7 linked regions of the Homo sapiens genome follow. The protein of the gene in region 7 purifies or fractionates together with the protein of the main gene of each other region. This does not show direct contact. Each region holds a gene or a part of one and is shown on either strand. Other genes may lie near its edges. The genes, in order: OSTM1, STEAP3, NCEH1, TGS1, CLCN7, FAM204A and FAM177A1.

Region 1 (3,500 bases), on a different chromosome or scaffold from region 7:
AGATTCTCATTACAAAATACTTTAAGATAGGCAGGATAGATATTATCTCCATTTTACAATGAGAGAACTGAGGTTTTCATGATTTGTAAGTAGAAGAACTTACTTAAGAGCAGAAATCCAGGTCCACTAACTCCTTTACATCATGAATTTAGATAAATATCAATAATTAGTGCTCTAAAAACTTGGAACTGCACATTATTCCTTTGTACAAGGCAGCATTTTAATTTTAAATATTATATATAAAATACCTGAAGGTTATGTTCAAAGCAGGTCAGGGTGTGATTAAATAGATTAAGGAAATATACTGTGCTGTTTGATAATTCTTCACTGTTGTTTGTTAAACAATCTGTCAAAAAAATTCAAAAAGTATATTAATATAACTCAAGGAACAATTCTATGTTGTCATTTATATCTTAAGCTATCAGCTTCGTTTCACACTACAGTAATTCTTTATTCAAACAAGCATGAATTTTCCAAATATATGAAGCTTACTCCTTTTATTTTCCAAAAGTTAAAAAAGTCATAACCATTTTCATGAACATGTTAAAATAATCACATACTCTCTTTTCATAAAAATATACCAAATAAAATTCAAATGGACTTTTGATGGCACAAGGTCATAATCACGGAATATCAGCTATCAAATGCTGCCTTAACAGTGCTATTTAGGCATAAGACTGTTTACCCTGCATTAATTTTACCGAAACTCATATGCCTTATCATTTTTTGTGTCAAATTTCATAGTTCTCTGCATCTTCCAACTTCACTAATGAGTCATTTATTGTACCTAATGGGGTAACTTTTAAAATTCGCTCTTTCTAATCCATCACGAGTTGGGAGCCCAGAGAAACAAACTGGTGAGAATTTTGCCTAAAATACTGACGTGGGGGCTTCAAGTAAAGTCTAGAAACAAAATTGTTTTACATTTTTAAAAATCCTACATAAATGGTATTTCTCTGCAACTGGCTATTCTTGCTTAGAGTTAGCTCAAGTTCACTCATCCCTTTTATTTTCTATGTATGTGTATATCACAATTTATGTATCCATTTTCCCTTCTTCAGGGAATAATCTATTCTTCTTTTTTTTTTTAAGAAACGGGGTCTTGCTCGGTTGCCCAGGCTGGAGTGCAGTGGCACAATTTGCCAGCTCATTGCAGACTTGAACTCCTGGGCGCAAGTGATGTTCCCACCTCAACCTTCCAAAGTGCTGGGATTACTTAAAGGCATGAGCCACTGCGCTCAGCCAGGGAACCTAGTCTTTATCCTCAGGTAAACCTTTGTCTTTACCTCTCCTTGTGTTCTCAGCCTGCTATCTCCAATCGAGGTTCAACTGCCTGGTTCCAGATCTTGGAACTTGTGGTCAGTCGTTTCCATCTGACTCTCCTAGAATCCTTGCCCTCTTTATCTTCCACATATTCACAGCCATTTTCATCCCTGGACAGTCCCCATCTACTTTCTGTACTCTCAGTCTGGTTACAGAATACTACTACAGAAATTCTAAAATGATAATGAAGGGACTCAATTCAAATTCATGTGTTCTGATCTCGGGGCAACAAAATGATCCTTGTAGATGCCCTCCTAATTGCTCTGCAAGGGATGTTCCACATATTTTCTCATCTCTAGTCCCAGCCCTACTCTTGTTCCCCTTAATTTCAACAGATGGCTTTGTATTATGCCCACCTTATTTAGAAATTCAGGGCCATCAGATAGGATCTCTCTCAACTGGAAGTGGAAAGACAACATGCAAAGCTATTGCAATTACCCAGGAGAAAGGCAGCAAGGCAAGTAGAATTTGTGGAGAAAAGAGAGACGGACTAGGTAGACACTAGGATATGACACACTAAGGGACATCCATGTACTCTGACAGACAACAATTACTACAACGAAAGTTAACACTTACTAAATACTTGCTATGTTCTAAGAACTATGCTTACACTGCACTTTAAACACATTTGCCCATTTAATTCTTGCAGTGATTCCATGAGGGAAAAATTATCATTATCTCCATTTTATAAATAAGGAACAGAGATAGGTTTAGATAAATTAAGGAAGTTGCCCAAGGACATAAAACTGGTAAGTAAAAAGCTAGACTCTGTACTCAGTCTGATTCTTGAGCCTGCACTCTCAAACACTGCAAAATAAACATATTTATATCTACATTCTAAACCATTAAAAGTTCAAGACTCGGAATCTACAAATACATGCCACTGCCTACTCCCTCCACTACCCATAGATATCTTACACCATACAGGGATTCAGGCAGTCCCCACCAACTGATCAGAGTTAGCAACTGAGATGAAACCTAAACCTGGTAGACAGGGGCAGACAGCACAGTAAAGCTCCTTTGTGCAAATCAGAAAAAGATATTCCCTCTGGGTAGATAAATTACAAAAGGTCATTCCTGCCTCCAGAAGCTAAGCTGGAATTCAGCCCCATTCACCTCCTTGTACAGCCCCCTTGTGCAGGGCTCCTTCTGCACCCATTGTACACAGGATCCTCTTGGTAAACCTATTTCAGGAGTTGTCCCCTCTCTGAACTCACATACTCTACATTCTCTGAAGCTTTATCTTCTCCAGAACATGAATCTCATTCTAACTTCTCACCCTTATTTAAAAAATCTGAGGGATCACTACAAATTAGGAAACTAAGCCACAGAAATAGGTGATATGCTGATGATCATACCACAAGTTAATAAGCCATTGATATAAAAATAGGCCAGCATGGTGGTTCACACCTGTAATCCCAGCATTTTGGGAGGCAGGTGGATTGCCTGAGTCCAGGAGTTCGAGACCAGCCTGGGCAACATGGTGAAAACCTGTCTCTACAAATAATACAAAATTAGCCAGGCATGGTGGCGTGCATCTGTGGTCCCAGCGGCTTGGGAGGCTGAGAGGGGAGAATTGCTTCAGCTTGGGGAGGTCGAGGCTGCAATAAGCTGTGATTGCGCCACTGCATTCCAACCTGCATGAAAGAGTAAGAACTTGTCTCATTGCCCCTCTTAATGCTAGTTTAATATCATCATGAAGTAGCCCGCAATCCTTTTAGGGATGAGGCAGAGTTGATATAAATAAAAACAAACAATTACATAGTTTTTGTACATGTTTACAAAAACAATTATATAGTTTTTGTAGTTGATGTGTTGCAGGGAAGTTAAGGGAACACAATTTCATTCACAACAGTTGTACATCTGTGTTATAATGAGCTATGTCGTGACAACTGACATAACAATATAGGGATAAAAGGGGTCCACATACTGCCAGCAAAAGTAGTATAAAGTGCATTATCATGAGAGAGCAATAGCAAATTTCTTCTATGCAAGATACCTAATTAAAACAAATAATTTCTTTTGCAAAAGCAATTTATAAAGAAAGCTTCTCTGAAGAACAAAAGAACTTAATTTCTTTTATTAATAATTACATTAATGCATTACCATCAAAACTTTTTCAATGATCATTAGATGGTGGTAACATAAAGCATAAAGCAGTTCATTTATATAATGGG
Region 2 (3,500 bases), on a different chromosome or scaffold from region 7:
TGTCTCCAGGGCAAAGCATGGACGGGGGCTGAAGAAGACACAGGCATGTTTCTGCTGGCTGGGGATGGCTTTTCAGTGGACCTTGGAGGCCACACCGGCAGCCCAAAGGAGGCTGGAGGTTTGGAAGCTTTTGCATTGTTGAAGTGAATTATGTGCAAGCCCATTCTTAGGGATAAGTGTATTCTATTGTTTTCAACTTGTTTGGAACCTAGCGATCTTGGAATAGGGCACATCTAAGTATCCCGGGCATCTTTATCTCAAGCCCACATGCAGAACCTGTTTTTCAGATCCCTGAGCATCTGATAAACAGGTTCTGGGCAGGTTTCCCCTATCATCACCAAACACCAAGCCAAGGCCTCATTGTTCTCTGACTGCTGTGGCCCCCTGGGTCTCCTCTCTTCTACTGGAGTGAAAGCCCCTGTGGGCAGGGCTAGATTCCTGAATCTCCGCGGAGTCTAACACAGGCCTGTAGGCAGGGACTGACTTCCACTACCCCTCCTTCCAGTCCCTGCCCACTCCACCCCCCACCACAGCCAATGGCATTCTTTCCATCTCCAATCTTGACAACCTCCTGGCCCATCCCAATCCCCCTTCCTTAAAGATCCAGCCCAAGGCCTTGGGCACTTAAGGCACCTGCCATCTCCCCCAACGCCCACCCCTGACAATCTCTCCCGGCTTTGAATTCAGACAGGCAGCTGTGTTAGTTGGGGGACCTAGCTGGACAGAGATGTGTGTGAATTCCGGTCCAGCCATGTGCTAGCTGTGTGACGTTGGGTAGGTTGCTTTCCCTCTCTGTCCTGATGATTAAACAGTGAATATGAAACCCCTAAACACATGTCTTCCTTAGGACTGTTCTTGTGTGCACCTTTCCTTGCTCTGCTGTGGCCACTCACTGCACGTGGCCCCTCTGCCACTCTGGGTGCTCTATGGTCAGCTGAGGGAGGGACCTAAGTGCCCTCCACCCCTGCACATCCTCACAGCCCCTCACATCGCTCTCTGCTTAGGTGAACTAATAATACAAAAATTAGCTGGGTGTGGTGGAGCACACCTGTAATCCCAGCTGCTCGGGAGGCTGAGGCACGAGAATTGCTTGAAATTGGGAGGCAGAGGTTGCAGTGAGCCGAGATGGCACCACTGTACTCCAGCCTAGGTGGACACCTGTTGAGCCAGCAGGTGTCAGGCAGTGCTTTCAAATATTTGTGAACACCAGAATCGCCCGGGCAGTTTAAGTGGGTGGGTTTCTGGGCAGCCCCAGGCCCAGAGTCTCTACTTCAGTGTGTTGGTGTGGGGTGGATAGGACTCTATTTTCCTGTCAAAGCTGCTGGGGGGTCTCCAGATCTCTTTGGAGAAGCTGCACTGTGAGGAAACCGCACCTGAGGAAAGCAAACCTTTCTGTTGCTTTTGAGAGTACAGGAGCTGGAGAGTACGCGTTCCTGGAGGGCTCCAGGTCAGCTGTGACAGCTGCCCCCTGGGGTTCTCACTGAGACCTTGGCTCTACCCTGAGCTCCCTCAGCCTTGAGACTTCTCCTCCTCTCAGCACCCCCCACAAGCCATGCCAGATGTTAAAGGTCATGGGAGGGTAAGCGGCAGCCCCAATGGAACTCACACCAGCACAGGTGACACAAGGTTTCCAGCCTCCAGCCTTCAGATCTGGGAACACCAGGAGGGCAGGGCTTTCCCAGATGCCTGCCCCTCCACCCACCCATCACCCTGATTTCTGGCTGCTGGGCCCAGCACTGTCTTGCTTCCTTCCCTTCCAGTTCCAGGCACCACCTTCTTTCTGGCCAGTCCAGAGACATCTCCAAGGGCCAGAGGGTCATCTCCAGAGGGCCTGGTGTCACTTCCCGCAGCTGCTCTGGCCTTTCACCCAGGTTGGGGCGATTTGATGGACAGTGGTGGGTCCCCTCAAACTCCACTGCATTCAGCGTGCTACTGACTCATGTGCAGGCCTGGGCAGTCACCCAGAAAGCCCCCCTGGATGCCAGCAAGCCCACTGTGGCAATGGGCAGGCCAGACCTCACCTGGAGGGCCCAGCTCACAGCCACTGTATCCTCTAGCTGTGCACCCAGAGTTCACCTTCAGAGAGACACTTGCCCTGACTGGGGGTATACTGTTACTCTCTCAAGCCCACCAGGAAAATCACGCACCACTCCCCACAGCCTACTGGCCACCCCACCAGTCGGATGCTTATAGAAATGGGAAGCAGCCGGCTGTGGTGACTCACACCTGTAATCCCAGCACTTTGGGAGGCCGAGGCAGGTGGATCACCTGAGGTCAGGAGTTCAAAACCAGCCTGGCCAACATGGCAAAACCCCATCTCTACTAATAATACAAAAATTAGCTGGGTGTGGTGGAGCACACCTGTAATCCCAGCTGCTCAGGAGGCTGAAGCAGGAGAATTGCTTGAAATCGGGAGGCAGAGGTTGCAGTGAGCCAAGATGGCACCACTGCACTCCAACCTAGGTGACAGAGCGAGATTCTGTCTCCAAAAAATAAATAAATAAATAAATAAATAAATAAATACAAGAAATGGGAAGCTTGTTCCCTCACAGACCCCAGCATGCTGGCTTTGGGAGCCCTGCTGTCTACACATGAACCAAGACAGCTGACACCACAAAATAAAGCTTAGTGGGCCCATTCACCGACCCCAAATCTCTTTATATGTACCGAAGTCGGCTTTATAATCTTGGGGCAGTATTTTTTTAACGTGTTTAATAACAAGGCTTAAACATGTGATCTTTGCTGAACTCCCACCTGGCTCTCATTAAGCAGAAGGCAGAGATGGAGTAAGTCACAGCCTGATTGCGGAACAATCAGTGCTCACTTGTTGCCCACGCTGCCCGGTAACTGTGGGCATGCAGAAGACAGACTGACTGGGAAGAGTTGAGTATCGAACAATTCTCCGGTGACAGTGTTCTTACGGTGCTGAAGCAATGAACGCCTGGCCCATTCAGTGCAGGGCTCACGAGACCAGGCCACACCTGAAGAGGAACACACTCTGCCCCTGGGTTGAAGTGACAACGCAAGAGTTTGTGATCCACAAGCAGTCGCCCATCAGCCCTGATGGCAGGCACAGTGGTTGATCCCTCCAGCTCAGTGGGTGAGGGGAGCGGGTGTCTTTGGTTTTGCATCCTTGCTCACTCACATGAGCTATAGGTCCTGAGCCTTACTGCCACCGTGTCTCCTCACTCAGATTCGCAAGTACGCAGAGGGCACGGGTGTTTGTGGGGTGGTTGATGACAACAACACTCATCCTGCCAGAAGTGGGACTCAGCTGGTCTTAGAGTGCCTGGCTCAAAGTTAGTGCTCGGTAAGTGTTTGTTGAATGAATAACCGATGAGGCAGAATTTGGACAGGAGAATGTGGCAGTTAGTTAGTGGCTAGGAGTCTCAGGTTAGGGGTGGAAAAAAAGAGGTTGGGGTCCATATGGAGTTGGAAAGTCACATGGTTGGGAGAATAACATTATCGACCTCCTAAGAGTCTCCAGGTACAAATGAGCT
Region 3 (3,500 bases), on a different chromosome or scaffold from region 7:
TATTATCATCAAAATTATTATAATTATTATTCACATTCTTCTTAGTTGCCCAGAAAAGTGGCTTATACAGAACTGACAGAGACAACCCAAAATATTAATATTACTACTATTACTACTAACCACACCATTAAAATTTGTTGAACACGTATTTCTGTTCCCAAGGCACAAGTCATAGAACCTGACTCTAAGAGAGCAACTTTTTCAACTCTCAGCTGTAGAAGAGATTCTCTTAAAATCCTTACTACTTTTTAGATTTAAAAAGTTATATGTTGCAGGTAACTGATTGCATACTTCTCTAGGTTTTTAGTTAATCCTTTTTTCAGTTTTCAAAACTAACGGTGAAAAGGTAATTTGAAGTGTTATAAAGCTAGTTCAATAAATTTTGTTACATCAGAAATCATTTTTCTGATTATGCTGAGTGTGACTTTGGGCATATCTCTTTGCCAACTTGAGACCTTTATTTTTTACTTTATCACTTGTAAAACAAAGTAACCAGACTGTTATCTAGAATTCCTTTATAAGAAAAATTTTCTATGACTAGCATTAATTACTTACTCAATGGAAACAATGACAGCATTCAATTCCTCAGCCATTGCTGTACACAGCTCATCATAATACCTGATTTCTAAAAGACACAAAGGGAACAATCATTACAAAACAGGTCATTTAATACTGTCCACTCATAAATTCTGCTAAGTGTGAATTGTTTTTAGGCTTGGAGCTAATACTAAAAACAAATAATAAAAAGCAAATGTGAACAAATAATAGAGTTACATGTACACATGAAAAATTAAATCTGATTTCTAATAACATGCAACTACTATATAACAGGAAATGCATAGTTTAGTTTTGAATATATTACTATCTAAATATTTATTTCATAACGGACTATATGAAATGCACCAAATTAATCCTGATTTTATAGCTCTTCAAATGTATACATCTTTCTGGAAAAAAAATCACAGCAAATAAGCAGTCTCTTCCTTAGAATCATGCAATTTTAGGCTGGGAGTGGTGGCTCATGCCTGTAATCTCAGCACTTCAGGAGGCTAAGGAAGGAGATCATTTGAGGTCAGAAGTTTGAGACCAGCCTGAGCAACATAGCCAGATGCTGCCTCTATAAAAAAATTTTTTTTAATTAGCCAGGCATAGTGGTGCACGCCTGCAGTCCCAGTTGCTTGGGAGGCTGAGGAAGGGGGATTACTTGAGCCCAAGAGTTTGAGGTTACAATGAGCTGTGATAGAGCCACTGTACTCTGGCCTGGGTGACAGAGTGAGATCTTATGTCTAAAAATAATAATTTTAACAATTTTGCTCTTTTAACACTTCATTTGCTGCAGTTCAGTAAAGTGATCAATTTGAAGAATATGGTATTTTCTTTAAATGAACACGTAAAAAACTAGAATTTTAGGAAGTCTTAGCATTTCTTAGAGGATTCCAAAGGTCTGCAGTAACAGAACCAATTTAATATGTAAGAATTTAATTCTTAGTTACTCTCAGTAAATTAAGATCTATATTGTGCCAACTGAGAGCCAAACATTTCCTTATTTATAGGGTTTCCAAGGCAGTCTTAGAATCGGAAGCTTAAGAATTACATAGACACCTGTTACCTCCACCTGCTCAAGTTCTTCCTCAGGCAGAAGTGATCAGTCAAAATTATGCAGAAAAGGCCAGGCTGACTCTTGTAATCCATCCCATTCCTGGCACCCATACTTGCTGTCCTCCAGTACAATGTTTTTCCTGGCAAGCGTCCAATGCTACAGATTCAATCTCTTTTAAGGCAGAAACTCCTTCTTATTCATTTTTGTATCCCTACACCCGAGCACACCTTAGACTGACCAATGGTCCAGACTTGCCCACAACTGTTTGAGCTTTTGCACTGAAAGACCTGCAGCCCAGCAAACCCCTTGGTCTCGGGCAAACCTACATACTCATGAACAGCTATTGAAAATGTGAAAAAAAATCACTGAATAAAAGAATAAACAACGGATATGGAATTAAATAAGATTACTAGAAAAAGTCAAACCTTTTGACCTTTGTTGCTTTTAAAAAAAAATCACATAATGATAAAATAAAAAAAACAAGTTGCCATTGCTTTTAAACTAAGGGGATGCCAAAAGCTCTGGACTGAAGATGAGGAAGTAGCTCCATGATCATTTATTAGCAGAGACAAGACCCCGAATTCCGCCTTGGGAGGTTCTCTTCTGGGCGGCTCTGTTTGGCTGCCTGCCATTTTGAATGTGTTCTACTCATAAAAATCATCCAAATCTAAAGAAAATATTCTTGAACTTTGCAAGATTGTTTCCTTTGAATGGTTGCATATATTTTTACCTTTGCTTTCATAAGCAGATAAAATGTTAACATGTGTATTAAGGAATACCTGGTCTATTTCATAGAAATATATCTTCAAAACACAAGTTGGCAAAAGAAGCACAGATAATTCCCCATATGCGTGCCTGGTGAAACTTCACCTTGTTTTGGTGCAGAAAGCTGTATCAGCACTGCACAATAAGTTAGTCTGTGATTTAGATCATAGGAAATATTTTTACAACAGTCTACCTGAATTGACAAACAAACTAACAAGCAAAAAACCTTTACAAAGGATAACCATTTAATTTATCACCCAAACCAGGACCCTTTTGAGAGTGAAAAGGGGGCACTAGTCATAATTTTGCTGGGACAACAGGGGTAACTGGGACCATCCAGGGGAACCTAGATAAATGGTCCCCTTCTTTCCCACTAAGAAAGCCAAACTCAGTTACGCATCTCCCCCAAGGCCAACCACAACAACAAACCATCTGAAGGTGACCAGGACGCACTTGCACTTGCCAAGGCCCAGCCTCCTCCGTGGATATAAACGACGCTGCGTTTCAGTGGCTCTTCGGGCTTCGGAGGGCCTTCAAACACTCTGACTTCCACACCATCAAAGTCTGTGTCGGTCACCTTCACTTGGGCAGAAGACCACGCGCTTTTTTTGCCAAAAGAAACAATGATAAAATTCAGTGCCAGCAGGTGATGGCTCAGTCCCAGGTAGTGGATCAGGTTACTCTGCAGGGCGAGGGAGGAAATAAAGAGGGAGGGCGCACGTCAACTTGGCATCACCAGAGCTGCCCTCACCAACTGAGTGTCTGAATTCCTACAAGCAGCTGCCACTGGACTGGAGGGCTCATTGAGCCCTTTTAATACAAAAACCAATTGTATTTACCTTTTGCTTTTGGACAAAATATTTTCATACATGAGATCTCCTCAGGTATCATCAGTCCCATTTTATTGAGAAGGCTTAAACAATAACTATGCTTGTTCATTTCATTGGATAAGTGGTAGTTCTGGGACTCAAACCTAAGATTAGGTTTGAATTCCAGGATTCAGTACCTTTTTTTTCTAAATAAGTATATCACAGTTCCAATAACATACTAGGAGTAAAGAAATAATACTTTATTTCAATGCAAATAAAAGAGGAAAATGTTCTATTTACTTTAATTTCTTTAAATTCCTTTGTAA
Region 4 (3,500 bases), on a different chromosome or scaffold from region 7:
TTTTGGAGACAGTGTCTTGCTCTGTTGCCCAGGCTGGAGTGCAACGGCATGATCTTGGCTCATTGCAACTTCCGCCTCCTGGGTTCAAGCAATTCTCATGCTTCAGCCTCCTGAGTAGTTGGGACTACAGGCACACGCTACCATGCCCAGCCAATTTTTGTATTTTTAGGAGAGACAGAGTTTTGCCATGTTAGCCAGGCTGGTCTTGAACTCCTGGCCTCAAGTGATTTGCCTGCCTCAGCCTCCCAAAGTGCTGGGATTACAGGCATGAGCCACCATGCCTGGCCAAAACTGCATGCTTTTAAAGGGTCGGAAAAAGCAAGGAACTGGATGGCAAAAGGCCATAGGGTTGCAGAAGTACAGGAGGAATAGCAGAGCCCTCATCATTGTCAGAAATGAGGTCCTGTGTCCACTCTAGAGTAAAGAGAATACTGACCTCCTTCTTTCCTAGTAGAAAAAATTTACATTTTTCAGAAAGACAATTATCTGAACAAAATGATGTGCTGGGCTGGGCGTGGTGGATCACTTGAGCACAGGAGTTTGAGAGCAGCCTGGGCAACATGGCAAAACCCTGTCTCTACAAAACATTAGCCAAGCATGGTAGTGCTTGCTTGTAATCCCAGCTACTTAGGAGGCGGAGGCATAAGGATTGCTTTAGCCTGGGAGGTGGAGGTTGCTGAGCCAAGATTGTGCCACTGTACTCCAGCGTGGGTGACAGAGTGAGACCCTGTCTAAAAAAAATAAAAAAAAAAAGAAAAGAAAAAATAAAAAGAAAAGAAAAGAAAAATAAATAAATAAAAATAATGTGCGTTAATTTTCCTGTTGTCTCCCCTTACCAAAACTTTAAATGGCTCTTCAATACTGGAAAAATAAGAATATACACTTTTATAGAATTGCAAGTGTTTTCCAGCCTTATTTCTCCTTACAAATTCCTACGTACTTTTTCCAATACACAGCATTTTGCAAATTGTTTTAAAAGGGTCAGAGAACCCCTGAAATTCCATCATAGATCAAGAACTTCTGATTTTGATAGTTAATAAAAACCAATATTTAGGTAACCCCAATATGAAAACGAGCATCAGTCTGCAAGACTGAGTTAAGTAAGCTGTTGCAGATCACAGCAGGAAAGCTGGAGAAAGAATTCAAAATTTGCGAAGTTAATTCATTAAATTGTATCCTTCTGCACTAGATATTTCTTCATCAGGTTTTCTGTTTAATAATTTATCAATTGCTTTTGCTATCTATCCTAACGTGCTACAAATACAGATTAAACCCAAGTCTGAAATTTTAAAAATACACACACACACACACACACCCCCCCAAATTGAAGGGCATCCTATAAAATAAATGGCCATTGATCCTTTGAAAAATGTCAGTCATGAAAGACAAAAAAGGCTAAGGAAACATTCCACATTAAAGGCAACTAAAGAACTTGAAAAATAAACGCAATGATACATGATCCTATACTGGAAGGAAAAAAAAAACGTGATAAAGGACAAGATTAGGACAATTAATGAAATTAGAGTATAAACTGTAGATTAAAATATTGGAACAATGTTAAGTTGATAATTCACTATTTTAAACAAAAATATACTTGTCCTTAGCAAATATACACTAAAGTATTAAGAAGTATGAGCATGATGTGTGTTAAGTACTGATCAGAAAAAGATACACACACATACATATGGAGAGAGAATGAGAACGTAAACGGGGCAAAATGTTGAAAATAGCTGAATCTGGGTAAAGGGGATATGAACATTCCCTGTATTATTCTTATAACTTTCTTTTTAAGTTTGAAGTGGTTTCAAAATAAAGCTAAAAAATACATATATACTTTACCTCTGTCCAACTTAATCCCATCATCAAAACGGGAGAAGAGCCTGTACCTCTGGGCCCAGTATTTTGCCAGCTCAGGAACAGCAGCTATTTCAGGAGGCAGACCATTCACCTTTTTGTTCTTCTTCTTGTTCTTCTTCTTTTTCACTTCAGCTAAAATAAAATACAAAGAATATAGATGCTCACTAAGAAAAAAATTAGTATCACAGGTGAGTTTATCTAAAAATGAAGCCACATCAAATAATTACAAGCAGAACATGTATATAATGACACGCCCAGAGAAACAGGAGAGCCTGATGGAAACGCCACTGGCTTCAATCACCACCAGCATTTTGCTACTTATTGGCTTTGTAAGCTTGGGAAAGTAACCGAGGGTCTTTAAGCTCCATTCATTCATTCATTTATTTATTTATTTAGAGACGAAGTCTGGCTCTGTCACCCATGCTGGAGTGCAGTGGCACGATCTTGGCTCACTGCAAGCTCCGCCTCCCGGGTTCACACCATTCTCCTGCCTCAGCCTCCCGAGTAGCTGGGACTACAGGCGCCCGTCACCACGCCCGGCTAATTTTTTTGTATTTTAGTAGAGACGGGGTTTCACCGTGTTAGTCAGGATGGTCTTGATCTCCCGAGCTTGTGATCCACCCGCCTTGGCCTCCCAAAGTGCTGGGATTACAGGCATGAGCCACTGTGCCTGGCCTAAACTCCAATTATTAATTCCTATAAAAGGAATGAGTGGGCTGAGCGAGGTGGCTCACACCTGTAATCCCAGCACTTTGGGAGGCTGAGGCAGGTCAGAAGTTCAAGACAAGCCTGACCAACATGGTGAAATCCCATCTCTACTAAAAATGCAAAAATCAGCTAGGCGTGGTGGTAGGTGCCTGTAATCCCAGCTACTTGGGAGGCTGAGACAGAAGAATGGCGTGAACCCGGGAGGCGGAGCTTGCAGTGAGCTGAGATTGCACCACTGCACTCCAGCCTGGGCAACAGAGCAAGACTCTGTCTCAAAAAAAAAAAAAAAAAAAAAAAAGAACGATGGGGCTGGGCGCAGTGGTTCATGCCTATAATCCCAGCACTTTGGGAGCCTGAGGCAGGTGGATCACTGAGGTCAGGAGTTCAAGATCAGCCTGACCAACATGGTGAAACCCCATCTCTACTAAAAAAAAATACAAAAATTAGCTGGGCACGGTGGCAGGTGCCTCTAATCCCAGCTACTCGGGAGGCTCAGGCAGAAGAATCGCTTGAACCTGGGAGGCGGAGGTTGCAGTGAGCTGAGAATGCGCCATTGCACTCCAGCCTGGGCAACAGAGCAAGACTCTGTCTAAAAAATAAAGAATGAATGAATGAGTTAGTGAGTGGTGTTTTACTAACTTAATTCACAGCAGTGACAGGACATATGTAGAAATACTGCTATAGACATAAAAGTTATTACTTCTGTTAGCCAAGACACTGCTTTATGTGGTGAATTATAGAAATCTAAACATTTCCTTTCTATCAAGGACTAGATTAGGCTCTAGCTGTCAGCCACATTGAAGTCACATGGCATCTGAGAAACTGAAACAAGGGTCACTAGCTCCATTCCACGGAAAAGGATCTCATTCATTCAGAGAGTGATTTTTTCCTTAAATAATTTTTATCAGTTTGGTTATTTGGTTTCAGTCTTCAGC
Region 5 (3,500 bases), on a different chromosome or scaffold from region 7:
GCTGTCACTGCTGTCCTGACCGGCTTCCTGCGCCCTGCACTCCTCCGTCTGAGAGCACTTCTGCCCAGCTGCCTCTGCTCACTTGGCGTCAGGGACCATGTCCCCCCAAGGAAATCTTCCCTGAACCCCGGCCCTGGGGCCCCACTATCTCCCTGCCGCTCGGCCCGTGCCCATCCCTGTCACCCTCTGCTAAGATGCAGCTAGCTCTGCGGGAGGACGGGGAACACCCCCAACTCACCGGGTCCAAAAGTTCATCATCCAGCTCCACGCTGCTCATATGTCCGACTCGGAAAAGCGCAGAACGTGGTGACTAAAAGCAGAAGAGAAATCATGAGGGCGCTCAGGCGTCGCACGCTCTGCTCCGTGGATTCTCACTCCCGCCGCCGCACCCTGGCCTCGCCTGACCCTGCCCGGGAGCTCAGGAATGGGCTAGGCCAGGCCTGCCTGCTGGGTGGGGGCAGCAGGGCTGGGACGGGCCTCCCTGGGCCCTGGAAGCAGAACTGATCCGGCTGCCCCTCGGCCTGTCAGCGACACGTCCAGCCCGAGTCCAGGGCGCAAGCTCCCTGCTCTAGACTGAAAGCGAGGCACCTGCCACCCACCAGGAAAGAAGGGCTGGACAACACGCCGCCCCCAATGCAGTGCCCGCCACAGCACCCTGGGCCATCCTGCCCAACCCTGCTCCCGAGGCCCTGCTCAGCCACCTGCCACCTCCACAGAGTCACCTCCACTGCAGCCTCTCTGGGTCTTGAGACACAAACGGCTCCACAGTGTTCACGCTGCCCTCCCCACAGGACGCCCAGCTGTCAGGCAGAGCTGGGTGGGGTCTCAGCCACCTAAGGCTTTGCGGCCGCCCCAGCTCAGGGCAGGGGCAGGGCAGCGGGCCCTGGGTGGCGTGGTGCAGATGTGACTTACGGAGCTCCCACCCCAGTCTCCGGCTCCTTACTAGAGCCAAGGCGCTGAGGCCAGGCTAGGAGGAGCCAAGACCTCAGCCTCCTTTCCCCAAAGAGATCCTTTGGAGACGACTCCAATTTCCACTATCTCCTGAATCTTTAGCAACATCTGGGGACATGAAGGGAAGAAGGGCTGCCTTCCAGGTGGAGGGACCGCATGCGCAGGGCGCCCGCCATCTGCATCAGAGAGCCCGTGCGCCTGTCAGGAAAGTGTTGGCGGAGGAGTCCAGCGGCTGGTACCGGCCGTGGGAAGACCAACGAGGCTGCCGCCCGCCTTCCCTGGGAGCAGCCCTCCCGGCCCCCAACGCCGTCCCCTCCTCATCCCCCCATCTCTCCCTCCACCTTCCTCAGGCTCGGCCTCCCGCACCAGGTTTCAGCAGGGCCTGGAAGTGCTTCTTGGTGATAGAACGGCAGGTGATGGCGCCAGGAGCCCACAGGGCCGAGGTGGGGACGGGGAGACGTGCAGGAACGGCCTGCACTGGGGCCCAGTTTTCCCTCAACCTCCACCTATCCACGGGGATCACGATTACCACACACAGGCAAGGACACAGAAGCAGAGAAGGAAGGTTTGGGATCTGAGGTCACTGCGAGCCAGGGGTGGGGGTCCTGCTTTCTCTGGAGTGCTCACCCCTGAAGGAGACGGGCTCCCCAAACCGCCATCCCAGAAACTGCCTTCAGAACCAGACCTTCCCGGCGGGGTACAGTGGCTCATGCCTGTAATCCCAGCACTTTCAGAGGCTGAGGCGGGCAAATCACTTGAGGCCAGGAGTTCGAGACCAGCTGGGCCAACATGGCGAAACCCCATCTCTACTAAAAATACAAAAAGTAGGCGGGCTACTTGGGAGGCTAAGGCGGGAGAATCGCTTGAAGCCGGGAGGTGGAGTCTGCAGTGAGCTGAGATCGCACCACTGCACTCCAGCCTAGGTAACAGCAAGACTCTGTCTCAAAAAAAAAAAAAAAAAAAAAAAAAAAAAAAGAACCTGACCTTCCAGCCCACTGCCCTCCAGGGACCCCTTCCCCAACCATCGTCCTGTTACCAGCCACCGTCGCCCTTGCTGTACACCCCCCGTGTTGATGACCCGGTAAGTGGCCCTGGCAGGGGAAGGAACCTGGGCACGTGCCACTGGCCCTTGGCAGACACCAGTCAGAGCCTCCTCCTCTCCCCAGGCAAAGAGCACTCTCAGGCCATCCCCATCAAAAGCCAGGAGCAGAGGCCAGACAGACAGACAGACAGACTCGCAGGTGTCTGCCGTGGCATCTCCACGCCCAGGGGAGAGTGTGGGAGGGGCTAGAGTGCACAGGTCCTGCTGGACACAACCCTGAGTCACAGGGCGCCTGCCCCTCCTCTTCCCCCAGCCTTGCCACATGCCAGTGGCTCTCCCTGAGCCCTCAGTCACAGGCGAAACTCACAGCTTGAGTCTCCTGCCACACGGGCTGACGGTGGGAGGAGGAAGGTGCCACGGTCCAGGCATGATGGAAGCAGTGGCCTGGCCAGCTGCCCACTCCCTCTTGCTCACACTCACATCAAAGCCCCTGGACTCCAGGTCTCACCACCAGAAAACAGCCCTGGGACCAGCGCTGGGCCTCTGACCCCCACCTCCCAGGTGGACAGGTGCCCCGATGCCCCAAACAGAGACCACGGAACCCAAAAGACCCATTTCACCATGAGGAAGGACCCCACGTCCAAACAGGCACCCTGTGGGACACACCCTGCCCAGAGGGCCACCCTCTCCATCACTCAAGATGTCAGCACTTCTCTCTAACGCCACTCAAGGCCTGCCGTGCTTCTCAGGCTATTCCTTGCTGGAAATAACGGATCATTCTGGCCGGACGTGGTGGCTCACGCCTGTAATCCCAGCACTTTGGGAGGCTCAGGCAGGAGGATCGCTTGAGCCCAGGAGTTCAAAGCCAACCTGGACAACGTAGTGAGACCCTGTCTCTACAAAAAATCAAAATCAGCAAGGCATGGTGGCGTGTACCTGTGGCCCAAACTACTCAGGAGGCTGAGGCAAGAGGATCGCTTGAGCCTGGGAAGTCGAGGCTACAGTGAGCTATGGTTGCACCACTGCGCTCCAGCCTGGGCAACACGGCAAGACCCTATCTCTAAAATTAAAAAAAAAAACCCAAACAAAACGAAAACAGCCACAGTCACATGTCCTGGGCGCCAGGCCTGGGAGGCCTTGAGGAGGGCCACCGTCTACACCACGACAGCACTGTCCCACAGCAGCAGGCAGAGCCGCACATGCATTCAGGCCAAGGTGAAGGCTGCCGGTGCAGTATGTGACCAGCGGGCCACCCCCACCGCCGCCGCCTTGGCAGATCCGAGAGGGGTGAGGGGTGAGGGGTTGCCCCCCAGCAGGGCATCAGCTGCCCCTGCCCGGAGTGAAAGGATGGGGCTCCGGCGCCTTGCCTTCCCAGCATCTCTTTCCTTAACTCTGCCAGGACTTTGAGAAGGTGGCTTTCGTAATGGAAGAACACGACGTTTACTTCAAGTTCAGCAATGCATTCCGTGCGGTTACTTTCTTTTTTAAATGCAAGCTCTTATAAATT
Region 6 (3,500 bases), on a different chromosome or scaffold from region 7:
AAGTCCACCTGCAAGTCAGAATAGTGAGTGTGGCCAGTAATTTACCCAGATAACCCATGATGCTCTCTACGTAACGAAACACTATGGAGTAGTTAAAGTCTGAGGTGAAGGAGGGAAGGATCAAGGCACTAAAAAAAAAGACTATGGTGGAGATTTTTTCCTAGAAAGGAAAAAAAGGAATTACAAAGCAACAACAATAATAACAAAACACATGCCAATATGAGCTCTTTAATCTATATTGACATTAATTCTCAACTGGGGGAATTTGCCCACACCCCACCTCCAGGAGTATAATTCAGAATCTTCTTGTGGCCTTCTGTACTTGGCAAAAGAATACCCAATATATCTATTAGTTTTATACTATAGAAAAAAAGAAAAAAGACCCAAAATTCTTTAGGGCTGAGGGGGATGTGCTGAGCAAACAGTAAGAAAGCATTTTACCAAGGGTTAAGAAAAGGTTCAGGGATGTGGCCTTAGAATACACAGTTGCCCTCAGAGTTCAAATGAGTTAAAGATGCAAACGGAAAAGAAAGCTAGCATTTTAATCATACCTGAAACAAACCTCTCTGATCCAGGTAAAATCTAAGGTTCAGTATCAATCATGGATTATTTCTAGCAAGTTTTAGACCAGAATGATTTAAAAACATTAAAGACAAAATAAAACCTAGCATTTCAAAATAAATGACAGAATAAAAGAGAAGAAAATGGACAAAAAGGAAAACCTCAGATGAAATATTTTAATACTGAACTTATTAATGATCATAAAAAGAATACAAATTTATTCTAGAAAATTTGAAAATACAGAAAATGTGTAACCCTTTTGACTCACCTCTCGAGTAGCTAGCTGGTTGCTGAGTTCCTCAGCCTTCTCAATATTCCACTCCTCCACAGCCTGGTCTATCCTCTTTTCAAGGCCTGACTAGAAAAAAAAGAAACCTAAAATTAAGGGCTGGAAGGAAAGCAAACATTTGCTAGCCAAGACCATGTCACAGAATTATACTGAATGTGTTACACAAGTAGACCATTAATTCTCACAATAACACCAGAAGGTAGCTGCTACCATTCCCATTAGTACCAGAAGGCTGAGACAGTAAATGGCTTACCTGAGGTCATGTAACTTCTTGAACTAATAAAAATAAGACGCAAATCCAGATTTTTGTGAATCAAAGCCTATGCTTTCCCTTAATAACAACAATAATGTTAATGATAACAATAGCTAAAAATTATGGAGTGTTTATTACGTGGCAGATTCTGGGCTTAATACTGTAAAAAAGCTCATTTAATTCTTATAACAACTCCATGAATAATAATGCTATCCTGTTTTAAAGATGAGGAAACAGAGCCCAAGACTCCTGAACTTGGCCAAAGCCAGCGTCTGTAAGTAGTAAAGCCATCACATGAATTCAGGTTTGCTCAGAGCCTGCATTCTCAACCACAAGTTTCTTCTGTCCCTTTTCTTACTGCCCATTCCTATAGCTCAGGACTTTCAGTCAATAGCCTCCACAGCCTTTGACTATGACCATTAGGCTGAATATTAAACAGCAGAGGAAAATTATACATAAGAATGATTTTATTTTCTTATGTATATGTTTTTATTTACTAAAGATACTTCAGGAAATCATAATTAATATTTTCATGGGATTACCAAACAGACTAGGGTACAATGCGTTACACATTTATAAAAAGATGCTTAGACTTAAATAACTGGAGTTCTAGTTTGTGAAAATAGTTGCTACAGATAATAAAAAATTTAAAAGATGGTCTAATATATGCTTCTTAGAAGCAAATTTTATCCCAACAATGGCTTATCTAGTCCTTTAACTTCCACATTCACAGTTAATACTCTACCTCTTACAGACTTCTCCTCCTTATTTCATAACAGAAGTCCTAAGAATGTCTCTTCCATCAGTCTATTGTTTGAACATGCCAATCAACTGAGAGAATTTTGTTCCTGTGTAGCCTTTGTTGAGATGAGATGTAAAAAATAACAACATAATTTGCCTAAAAAGGTTACAGAAATAAAGACCAGTGACGCTGTCACTGATGTCTGTTGCTAAGAGAAGACGATTCCTTCTCACAGACCCCACCTAAGTACTTAATACCTGCAAGGCCAACAGACTTTTCTGCTTGCTTTCCTGTGTAGCTGGAGACCATTCAACAGCGCTTCATAGTCTTTGACCTGAGGCCATACGGATCTAATGCTCACCACTCATTCTTGTCCTGTGATCATCTACCAGTCTCCAGAAACATCCCTTTCTTCCATTTCTGCAGAACTCTTCTCCTGATGGTCCAAACAACACCCTGGGACCTCTAACTTGATGCACTTCAGAAATCTATACTCTAGGCCAGTGCTGCTTCAGTCATGGCCTGTGTACCAGGTCTGGTCTGTACACAGTGCCAATCCATGAACTGTTTATTTTGGTCCACGTAAAGATAAGGAGCTTGTGCCAGAATACAAATCAGCTTCATGACTAAACACAGTTTTGTACTGGCCGGCATGTTGACACACACCTTTAGTCCCAGAGCTACTAGGGATGCTGAGACAAGAGGATTGTTTGAGCCCAGGAGTTTGAGGCTGAAGTGGGCTATAATCACACCACTGCGGTTTAACCTGGGTGACAGAGCAAGACCCTGTCTCTTAAAAACAACAACAAAACAGTTTTGTCCAGATGGCTTTTGCTGGGGGTAGTCGGGGACAAGAATTTCTCCATAAGGAAAGTAGTACACTGAGTTACATTCAGGCACACACTCCTTATCTCTTTGTATATCAATGCACTTGGAGTAAGACTGCTGTATGTCATGTTATAGACATTGCCTGAAAGTTCCGCCTCCACAACTTCATAATCTAGAATTCTACTCCCTGATACAATTCTTCCACTCACCCCAAGTCTTTCTACCTAATTCATCTGCTTTGCCTTTACTGGAACCTCATTCCCTGGCACGGTCCTTCAGTCCCTTCTTAGATACTCCTTCTCCCTCTCTAACTTGCAACCCACAATTACCATTATCAACTAAACTCTAAGCCAGTGGTTCTCAAAGTTTAAGTGCTGGACTAGCAGTATCAACATTACCTGGAAACTTGCTGGAAATGCAAATTCTGTGGAAAAACTCTAGGCTGGCGGCCCAGCAATCCATATGATTCTGATGCATGCTGAAATATATGTCAACTGTTTTTTTTTTTTTTTTGGTGACACGGTCTTACTCTGTCGCCAGGCTGGAGTGCAGTGGCGCAATCTCAGCTCACTGCAACCTCCACCTCCTGGGTTCAAGCGATTCCCCTGCCTCAGCCTCCCAAGTAGCTGGGACTACAGGCGTGTGCCACCATGCCCAGCTAATTTTTTGTATTTTAGTATAGACATGGTTTCACCATGCTGGCCAGGATGGTCTCAATCTCCTGACCTCGTGATCTGCCTGCCTCGGCCTCCCAAAGTGCTGGGATTACAGGCATGAGCCACCACACCTGGCCATGTCCTCATTCTTAAAACTACCCACTATCTCCT
Region 7 (3,500 bases):
TTTTTTTTCTATAGGGACAGTGTCTGGCTATGTTGCCCAGGTTGGTCTCCAACTACTGGCCTTAAGCAATCCTCCCACTTCAGCCTCCCAAAGTTTTAGGATTACAGGCATACGTCACTGTGCCTGAGCTGGAATTCTAATACAAATTTTACTCCTATATATTTACACTATATATATCTATATATATAGTGGGAGATGGTGAAGAGCTTCTTTTCATTGTCCTCTTGCCTCAAGTTTAAACTCCTAATAAAACTGCCTGAAGTTGGGCCAGGCGCGGGCTCATACCTGTAATCCCAGCATTTTGGGAGGCCGAGGCAGGCGGATCACAAGGTCAGGAGATCGAGACCACGGTGAAACCCTGTCTCTACTAAAAATATAAAAAATTAGCTGGGCGCAGCAGCGGGTGCCTGTAGTCCCAACTACTCGGGAGGCTGAGGCAGAAGAATGGCATGAACCTGGAAGGCGCGCCACTGCACTCCAGTCTGGGCAACAGAGCAAGACTCCATCTCGGAAAAAAAAAAAGAAAACTGCCTGAAGTTTAAACTTCCAGATTTCAAAAAGGTACAGTACATACAATTGTGAAGAAAAATCTGGCAACAGTGGTTACCCCATGGGTAGAAACTAAGATGGGGGAGAAGCAGAAGGCAAGGGAGTAGTCAAAGGAGGGCTTTTATTCTTTTTGCATATACAGGACTACAGTAATGTCATGATTACAGTCTATGTTCGTAGAATTCTCTAGGATAGTCCAGAGTACAAACATTTTGTTCTCTATAAAGATTCTTGTGGTTATAAGCAAACATAATTTAAACCCATGACTGCTGTTCAACCACTGGAAAAGCTCTTTGAATTGCTATTGCAAAAAAAGGATTATACTGATAAAAACAGTGAACTGCCCAGTTATGCAAGTATAAGCTACTTTGTTTTTATACATTGTTTCATCTTAATCTTCTAAGGTCCTTCTTAGAAAACAGATATGATTCTTCTCTGCCTTTTACCTCCCAAAGGTAAGTTTAGTCATTAGCCAGGATTTGAACTGCAGATCATGAAAATTTGGTAACAGGCCAGCCGTGGTGGCTCATACCTGTAATCCTAGCACTTTGGGAGGCTGAGGCAGGAGGATCACATGAGGTGAGGAGTTCGAGACCAGGCTGGCCAACATGGCAAAACCCCAACTTTACTAAAAATACAAAAATCAGCTAGGCATGGTGGTACACGTATGTAATTTCAGCTACTTGGGAGGCTGAGGCATGAGAATCACTTGAACCCAGGAGGTGGATGTTGCAGTGAGCCGAGATCGCACCACTGCACTCAAGCCTGGGCAACAGAGCCAGACTGTCTCAAAAAAATAAAAATAAGGCTGGGTGCTGTGGCTCAGGCCTATAATGGCAGCAATTTGGGGGGCCAAGGCAAGATAACCTGATGTCAGGAGTTGGAGACCAGCCCGGCCAACATGGTGAAACCCTGTCTCCACTAAAAAAACAAAAATTAGCTGGGCGTGGTGGCACGCACCTGTAGTCCCAGCTACTCGGGAAGCTGAGGAATGAGAATCACTTAAACCCGGGAGGTGGCGGTTGCAGTGAGCTGAGATCGTGCCACTGCACTCCAGTCTGGGTCACACAGCGAGACTCCATCTCAAAAAATAAAAATAATAAACTATCTTAAAAAATAAAATTTGGTAACATAGGCTACCTATGTATTAACATGAAAAAAAGTCACAATTCTTTCTAGCCTGTCCTGAGGGTTCAAATAAATCCCAGCCCTTAACAAGGAAAGATCAGGTCATTTATTGTGTCCATGAAAAAAATAAACAAGTAGTTAACCCAGGACACTTTTCTTCTACCTACCCCCAAGCCCCACCAATCCCCAGGCACTGACAGCCATCCCTACCCAGTCTCATGTTTACCCTTGAGATAAAATTTGGCTATGGCTGTCCTGACATCAACGTTTCCTTTTGGACCATGACTCAGCTTTTTGGATCCCTTAATTTCCTATGCAAAGGAAAGACAGATGAGCTAAGTTAGATCTCCAGTCATCCTACTAACTGGATGGATCTAATGTCAATGCAACAGCTCCAGTCAGTGAATAGAGAGCTCAGATCCTTCACAGTATACCACCATGCCCCACCCTATCCCACCCCCAAGACAGTAGAGGCTTCTCACTGCTACCTCTAGCAATCTCTCATTGGCTTAATTTTTTCCTTCTATGACACAGGCAAAGGAAGGAATGTCAGTGCTCAAAAAGCTTCAGATTTTAGAGTATTTCAGATGAGGGATAATGATTCCAACCTCTATTTGGGAGGCGGGGTGGGGGGCAATGAAGGAAGCACTAACAGGTAAAACCAACCAGAAAATCATTTGATACAAAATTCCCAATAATTATATTTTTAAAATATTTTTCTTTTTTTATTTTTCAAACATCAACTTGAACCAGAAATCCAATAATTACAAATAAAATTTACACTGTGGCTGGGCATGGTGGCTCATGCTTGTAACCCCAGCACTTTGGGAGACTGAGGCGGGCAGACAACTTGAGGTCAAGGGTGTGAGACCACCCTGGCTAACATGGTGAAATCCCACCTCTACTAAAAAAATACAAAAATTAGCCAGGCGCGGTGGAGCGTGCCTATAATCCCAGCTACACAGGAGGCTGAGGCAGGAGAATTGCTTGAACCCGGGAGGTGGAGGTTGCAGCGAGCCGAGATCGCGCCATGAACTTCAGCCTGGGCAACAGAGTGAGATTCTGTCTCAAAAAACAAAAAAAGTTACACTGTGAATTTTCCAAATGCTTCATTTTATAAATCTGCAAGTAAGAAAAATTTCACTGCCAATTATGCAAATTCCATAACGAACCCCAAAGATCTGAAAGATAGTTTCATAACACCAGGAAATTATGAGGTACCATGTCAATTAACATTTTACTCCATTTTATAGTTAACCAAACTATAAATGTGCTTATCTTTATTCTCAGGATCTGTTTTTTTCTTTTTTGAAAAGGAGTCTTGCTCTGTCATCCAGGCTGGAATGCAGTGGTGCGATCTTGGCTCACTGCAACCTCTACCTCCTGGGTTTCAGCGATTCTCCTGCCTCAGCCTCCCGAGTAGCTGGGACTACAGGCGTGAGCCATAATGCCCAGCTAATTTTTCTATTTTTAGTAGAGATGAGGGTTTCATCACGTTGGCCAGGCTGGTCTCGAACTCCTGACCTCAAGTGATCCACTGGCCTCAGCCTTCCAAAGTGCTGGGATTATAGGTGTGAGCCACTCTGCCCAGCTCAGGATCTGGTTTTAATGGCAATTTTTTGTATATACTCCCATGGCACCCAGACTTCTTTAAAACACATACTAGACTTAGAATTTATTCTTTGTCATCTTCCCCAACTAGGCTATTAGCAACATGGGGGTAGGTACTGCTATATCTTTCAGCCTAGAGTTCCTGGCACATAGTAAGTGCTTGGTAACAGAGGTACCAAATAAATCAATCACTGAGTGGTACTGAAATTTTA

What was found.
Region 1: the proteins of FAM177A1 (region 7) and OSTM1 purify together in Homo sapiens (affinity purification with mass spectrometry; 2 studies listed by BioGRID and IntAct, with this or other methods). This does not show direct contact.
Region 2: the proteins of FAM177A1 (region 7) and STEAP3 purify together in Homo sapiens (affinity purification with mass spectrometry; 3 studies listed by BioGRID and IntAct, with this or other methods). This does not show direct contact.
Region 3: the proteins of FAM177A1 (region 7) and NCEH1 purify together in Homo sapiens (affinity purification with mass spectrometry; 2 studies listed by BioGRID and IntAct, with this or other methods). This does not show direct contact.
Region 4: the proteins of FAM177A1 (region 7) and TGS1 purify together in Homo sapiens (affinity purification with mass spectrometry; 3 studies listed by BioGRID and IntAct, with this or other methods). This does not show direct contact.
Region 5: the proteins of FAM177A1 (region 7) and CLCN7 purify together in Homo sapiens (affinity purification with mass spectrometry; 3 studies listed by BioGRID and IntAct, with this or other methods). This does not show direct contact.
Region 6: the proteins of FAM177A1 (region 7) and FAM204A purify together in Homo sapiens (affinity purification with mass spectrometry; 3 studies listed by BioGRID and IntAct, with this or other methods). This does not show direct contact.

Annotation. Positions count from the first base shown.
Region 1 is NC_000006.12:108,054,242-108,057,741, forward strand, and holds part of OSTM1 (osteopetrosis-associated transmembrane protein 1 precursor), read right to left. Parts: intron 347-3,500; coding exon 249-346; intron 1-248. UniProt on the Homo sapiens protein: Required for osteoclast and melanocyte maturation and function.
Region 2 is NC_000002.12:119,226,834-119,230,333, reverse strand, and holds part of STEAP3 (metalloreductase STEAP3), read right to left. Parts: intron 1-3,500.
Region 3 is NC_000003.12:172,645,068-172,648,567, forward strand, and holds part of NCEH1 (neutral cholesterol ester hydrolase 1), read right to left. Parts: intron 3,048-3,500; coding exon 2,819-3,047; coding exon of another isoform or gene 2,795-2,818; intron 626-2,794; coding exon 556-625; intron 1-555.
Region 4 is NC_000008.11:55,800,946-55,804,445, reverse strand, and holds part of TGS1 (trimethylguanosine synthase), read right to left. Parts: intron 1,990-3,500; coding exon 1,840-1,989; intron 1-1,839. UniProt on the Homo sapiens protein: Catalyzes the 2 serial methylation steps for the conversion of the 7-monomethylguanosine (m(7)G) caps of snRNAs and snoRNAs to a 2,2,7-trimethylguanosine (m(2,2,7)G) cap structure.
Region 5 is NC_000016.10:1,465,029-1,468,528, forward strand, and holds part of CLCN7 (H(+)/Cl(-) exchange transporter 7), read right to left. Parts: intron 311-3,500; coding exon 239-310; intron 1-238. UniProt on the Homo sapiens protein: Slowly voltage-gated channel mediating the exchange of chloride ions against protons. Functions as antiporter and contributes to the acidification of the lysosome lumen and may be involved in maintaining lysosomal pH.
Region 6 is NC_000010.11:118,325,325-118,328,824, forward strand, and holds part of FAM204A (protein FAM204A), read right to left. Parts: intron 920-3,500; coding exon 830-919; intron 1-829.
Region 7 is NC_000014.9:35,049,272-35,052,771, reverse strand, and holds part of FAM177A1 (protein FAM177A1 isoform 1 precursor), read right to left. Parts: intron 1-3,500.